2 separate regions of the Homo sapiens genome follow, and region 1 is linked to region 2. Evidence: fine-mapped expression QTL. A gene starts in region 2. The other region holds a variant in brackets. All regions are shown on one strand. Distances are from middle to middle. Region 1 overlaps SLC13A4 (solute carrier family 13 member 4). Region 2 holds the start of SLC13A4 (solute carrier family 13 member 4).

Evidence for each region. PIP is the estimated chance that this variant, and not a neighbour inherited with it, causes the effect.
Region 1: its variant is the best candidate, but not a certain one, in a credible set for the expression of SLC13A4 in tibial artery (GTEx, PIP 0.83).

The regions. Positions count from the first base shown.
Region 1 is chr7:135,702,571-135,705,474 of GRCh38, reverse strand. It overlaps SLC13A4 (solute carrier family 13 member 4), which reads left to right. Exons shown (of 16, transcript NM_001318192.2): 6 at 2,591-2,630. LOC105375521 (a long non-coding RNA gene) reads right to left here. Exons shown (of 5, transcript XR_928021.3): 4 at 1-2,904. Among named protein-coding and RNA genes, the nearest start is that of SLC13A4, 24 kb to the left of the region's middle. RefSeq lists an enhancer at 1,080-1,374. The variant C/G (reference allele first, on the strand shown) is at 1,661.
Region 2 is chr7:135,726,522-135,729,425 of GRCh38, reverse strand. It overlaps SLC13A4 (solute carrier family 13 member 4), which reads left to right and starts at 1,240. Exons shown (of 16, transcript NM_001318192.2): 1 at 1,240-2,028. The coding sequence starts at 1,930.

The DNA of each region.
Region 1 (2,904 bases), 24 kb after region 2:
CACACCACCCCCCCACCCCGCCCAACCTCCCCCATTTCCTCTCCATACCTAGGAGTGACCTGTCAGGACCTGGAGAGTCACTCCCTTAACCACAGTGTTGCAGTGATGAGGAAGAAATAAAAAGGCCACACTGAATCTCAGTGGATATATGAACTGTCCACACAGCCACCATGCAGAATCTCTTCTAAATTCATGTCCCTTTTAGGAAAATAGTATGTTTAATTTGTTAACGGAAAACCGTTCACATCTCGATGCCACTGCAGATTCTTGGAGAATCATGAAATATTTTCTAGATATTAGATAAGGTCTTGGTAGATTTGGTCTTGTTAGATATGGCAAAGAAAACTTAGGTGACAGGTAGGGGATGAGGGGACAGGAGGTGAGAGGGCCTTGTGATGATGGGAAGCAGAGCTGGAAAAGGAGAAGCAGCCTCAGACATTCCTGGAGGAAGCTCTATTAACAGCTGATTCCATTTGGAGATTCTATTTCAAAATGTGGCCCACAGGCATGCCACAATGAATAGTCCACATTTAAAAGCTGGATTTGTAATACAGCTCAGCTCTGTCATTTGCCCTTGTTGTAAAAAAGGAGAACGCACATTGGGTGAAATCAGCGTTCACAGTGGGACAGACGTGGAAGGGTGCCATCAGGAAATCGCTTTATTTTTCTCCACCACTATCTTCAATCATAGCATATTGGATTTCTTGATGACATCACCCTTGATGATATCCCAGGCAAATCCCGTAGCTCTCCTGGTTCCTTTCAGGTATTATAACAATCTCATGTTCAGACATTTGGGAGACTAGTCCAAATTCAAATCAAAACTTCAACTTCTCAGCCAAAGCTTCTCCCATACCCACCCACCCCTCACCCTAGGCCTGCAGAAGAAAGAAGGTGAAAGTAAGTCGGGGGAGGGAGTTGAGCTTCTTTCTGTCTTCCTCCACCTCCCTCTTCTCCTCCTCCCCTAACCGCACCCTCACTCTGCTGCTTCTGACTTTTCTGGGCTTAGGACAGCAGCTCTAGGGTACAGGAAAGATAAATGGGTGAGAAGGGTCTGGATGGGGGCTATTGAGGTCTGGGGTTGGTGCCCTCTCTGAGATTTCAGTCCCTGGCTCTTTCATCTGTGGGGCAACTGCCTTCAGGGTCTTTGGAGCATCCCATTATGGCGCCCTCTGCAGGGCCTCAGGCCTGATGGCAGGGCCTTGCTCTGGGATTAACACTCACGCCACCCTCCAGGGCCTGTGCTCTGGTGGTTAACTCCCCCACAACCCCTGTATTGGGGCTGCCTCTGCCTCTGGGCAGGCCTGTCCCAGGTGACCCAGGAAAAGGCCATCCTCACTGTGGCCTTTTCTCCTCCCTGTGGCCTCTCTGGCATCACCCTACTGGCTTCTTGCCTTTGCTCTTTTCCACACAAAAATGTATCCCCAAACTCCAAAAGAAAAGCCTGAGTTGTCCCTAGAACTCTAAGCATCTTTTGTGCTGGTGGGAACTGGGTCATTTGCTGGGTGTGCAGACAGCACTCTTGCGGCCACCACCTCCCATGCTACCTGAGGATCCTCGCCTACCCTCCTCACCCAGTTTGGGAAGAAGGGAAGGGAAACATCACAGCACATTCTCCTCCCAGGCTAAGAACTCACTCCAAAGAACACTTCCCTCTGCA[C/G]GCCTGTCAGCTTCTTATCCTTCCCTGACAGAGCCTGAAGAGGGACCATGGCCGCAGGACCCACATCCCGCATGTGTGTGCCCAATACGCTCTCTGTCTTCACAGTGGCTGAGCTGGTGGCTCCCACTGTCCTCGCAACTAAGACAAACTGGAAACATTCACTGATCACTCAGTGTGTCAGTTACACTGATGGCTAAGTTCTCATCTTCTTCTGTCCTCAAGGCAAAGGTTGGGGACCAGCAGGGGTGGGAGAGACTCACCCCCTGAGGTGTACTTGCTGATCAGAAGTCCTCCCCCTCCGCCACCCTCTCCCTCTCCCTTGACTTTCCCTGAGTACAATCCAGGCCCTCCCTGCTCCTGTCACCTCCGATACGCATATCACAAGTTCCCCTTTCTAGATAGTGGTCTTCCCAGAGTCAGTCAGTGAGAACATGAGAGTCAGCCAGTGAGAACATGAGAGTCAGCCAGTGAGAACATGGTCAGGGGGCATAGGCTTTCCAGAGAGACAGACTCCTGGACTCCTACCCTCCTCTGCCACTTAGCATCCCCGTGCTAAGTACTGGTGTAAATGGAGGTATGAATGCCAGGACCATAGATCTGTGATGAGGATTAACAATGTCTGGGGGTTAAAGCCCATATATGTGCACTCTGTATCTAATATCCACTCCACATCTGCTGTTAGGACGATTGTTAATATCAAAGGAAAGTGCTGCCCCTGCCCTCAGAAGGAAGCAGGCCCCTGGCCCCACTAATCCTTACAGCATCTCAGAAGGCAAGGAAGACAAGGGAGAGATTAGTCTTCTCTGGAGACTAGAAAACTGGAATCCAGAGAGTTTAAGTCCCTTACACCAAACGCCTGATGCAGGGGGACCTCCCCTCCCAAGAGTCGGCCTCACTGACGTGGCTCCTGTGTCCTCTGCTTGGTTCCAGCAGGTCCAACGCAGACCTCACCACTCTGATGCACAACGAGGTATGGCCTTGGGGTTTTTCTGTGCTTTGGAATCACTTGAAAATCCCTCAGCACTTCTTCATGGAAACCCAAGATTCAGAACCAGATTTTCAACAGCTACAGATCCACCTTAGAGTTCCTTTCAGTGAGGATTCCATTGACAAAATGTTATTATTAAAAAGGACACATTGGCTGGGCGTGGTGGCTCATGCCTGTACTCCCAGCACTTTGGGAGGCCACAGCAGGAGGACCACTTGAGGCCAGGAGTTCAAGACCAGCCTGGCCAACATGGTGA
Region 2 (2,904 bases):
AAAAAAAATGAGGCCAGAATGTAGTAAATACAGTAGCCAGTCTTTAACATGCATTTAAAGAGTTGAGTCATCCTAGCCCATCCTACGATGGCAAGATAATTTCAAAGGGGACCTCAGCTGTCCACAGTTGCACCTGCCTTAAAAGTCAAGAAGAATTTGTTTTTTGGGTCACTTCCCTGGTCACTTTAGCCTGGGGATCATTTCCAAGTAGTATAGTTGCAGATCTTCGAACGCCATTCCTGTGTTCTGTGAATTCAAGACAACATGGGTTTTATAACCCTTTGACTCTGCTCAGCATCTCCCAGATCAAGGTAAGGTAATGTTGCCAAGAACCACTACTTACAGAATGTTTGGGCTTTTGCTTTTGCTTTTCTTCCTTGCCCCAAATCCACATGTCCGTTCTGAGAAAAGAAGCTAACAACTTCTTCCAATCTGTAAACAGGAGAAATTCCAGAGTTCAACTGCAGCTAAGACCTTGTCCCTGAACTTGTCAACTTCTTCCCTGCCCTCCCACCTCCTCCTTTCGTACCAGCCAAAGAAGGTCTTCGGTTTCCTTTTTGGAGAGCCCCAGAGAGAAGCATTTGAGCACCTACTTTAGCCAGAGAGACCACTGACATCTGGGCATGAGACTGGCATCTAGACTTTGCCAGGGAGGCAGCTATACTTCCCAAAAGATCTGGGGTCTTTCTCACGAGCTCATACCCTCTGCTGGCCTAGACCCTTTATATTCCCCCCTCGGTGCTGAGGCAAACGATCTTTGCCAGCAGGGAGGTCTGAAAGGCTTAACTTTGTACACTCTGAGGCAAATTCTCCAGAAGTAATGTTGCATTTTCTCCCTGCCACCAGGCACATTCCCTTCCCAAGGTCTAGATCAGCAGGTGGCCCTCCCAGCGAAAGCTCTGTGTCCTATGATCCGAAACAATAAAGCTGTGCTTGGGTACGTGAGATTATGTTTACGATGATGGTCATCACTCCAGCCCTAGGAAGTTTGAGAAACTGAAAAATAAGCTTAGCAGGCTGCCTAGGTTCTGCGGAATCAGCAGGCCCCCGCTGTGACCAATCAAGAGCGGCCGCGGGGAGAGAAATTGACTCATTCTTTTCAATTTGCTGATTGGCTTTGAGAAGTGGGCGGAGCTACTGTCTCTGTCCCGGCTTCCCATTGGTGGATGAAAGTTAAAGGTGGGCCTCCAGCAAGTTTTGTCCTTTGATAAAAAGGAATGTCTTGGGGACTTTTCTTTTCTGCTTTGCAGGCCCAGGCTCAAGGCAAATTATAAGTAGGGAACCAATTTGAGGGAAAGACATGTGAACAGAGTTAAGGTACCACGTCCTGGGAGCGACCAGCAGCCCCACCTGAAGTCCGCATGCAACTCTGACAAGCTCAGGTGCTTGTTTTAAGGAAAGGGGCTACTAGAGTCTTACCAACAGCGAGCCCAGGTGGGAGATGAAACAGGTACTCCCCAAAATAGGTCATCCGAGGGAGGAAAACTGATGGAGAGCACAATGTGCTCTGAGCGTTTTTAATGTTTTTAAGCTTTTAAATGATTTCTTCAAGGCCGAGCAGCAGCAGCAAAGGTGTGGCTTAAAGGATTAAGGGGGTTTCTGCTGACACCTAGAATGAAGTTACTCTATTACTAATCAAGCCGAGAGGAGGCCCACTATGCCCCCGTTTATCATCCTTTCCCAGTTCCTTTTTGCTGGTCACAAAACGATGCTCATCAATCCCACCTAAAGCAGGAGGCCAGGAGCCCAGCCTCTTGTAGAAACAGCGAGGGTATAACTGCCCTCCCGTTCTGCCCCCAAGACGAAGGAGGACTCTCGGAAGCCAAGAAAGGTTTAAGAAGTCTTTCTGGATAGAGAGCAGTGCCCAGGCAGGAAGCCTTTCGCCGGCAGAGCGGGGTCCAAGGACGAGCTGGAGAGGACAGAGGCGCGATGGGCCTGCTGCAGGGCCTGCTCCGAGTCCGGAAGCTGCTGCTGGTCGTCTGCGTCCCGCTCCTGCTGCTGCCTCTGCCCGTCCTCCACCCCAGCAGCGTGAGTACCGACCTGCGCCCACCGGGGGTCTGGGAGTCAGTGGGAGGGCAAAGAGGGGAGGTCGGTAGGGGAACATGGGGCGCTCAGGCAGTCCCTCAAAGTGGCTTGTGGTGGGTTTAAAGAAATGGAAGGATTTTTCCAGAGGAAACCAAGATATCTTCTTCCTAAAAGCTGTCATGTTCATCTCCTATCCCAGTCCCATTCCCCCAACCCCATGGCCCCCACCGGGGTCAGGACAGAGTAGGGGCCTTGGCAGAAGTGACTGATGGGTGTTGCACCAAGCAGCAGGCCAGCCTGCCCCAGCAGCGGGGGCCAGCGACACCCATGCAAACGACATGGTGCACCTGTGTTTGTCGGGAGTTCACCTGGGACCCTGGTTATCTGAGAGCCCCTGGAGACACAGAAAGAGCTCCCAATAGTGGCACTGAGGAGAAGGTTGGGGGAGGAAGAGAACCGTGGAGCCAATCCGTGGTCTGTGGTCGTGTCCTGGTGGGCTTCGATGACCACAGTTGAAGCTCTAATCCCGAAGGCGCCTATCAACTTCAGGGAATGAATGTTTAGGGAAGGAATGAAAGCAGAACTTAGCAGGCTGCCCTGCTCCCATGCACGTGGCCTTGAATTATTTGTGTCTTCTGTGTTTTCTTCTCTGTCCTCTTGAAGGACAGACAAAAAGTGACACGATAAAAAAGAGATAAGAGCCCCCAAACTCTAGCCCGTGACCTCATTCTTCACCTGGTTTGTGAGAACAGAGGAACCTCAGCTCTGGCTCAGCATCCAGCTTGCCTGTCACACCCTCCTGGTGGTCACCTGCTTCCCTTCCCTTCCCTCCGCTGTTCTCTTCCTCCTGTCTGTGGCTTGTCCCCTTCCCCCAGCTGG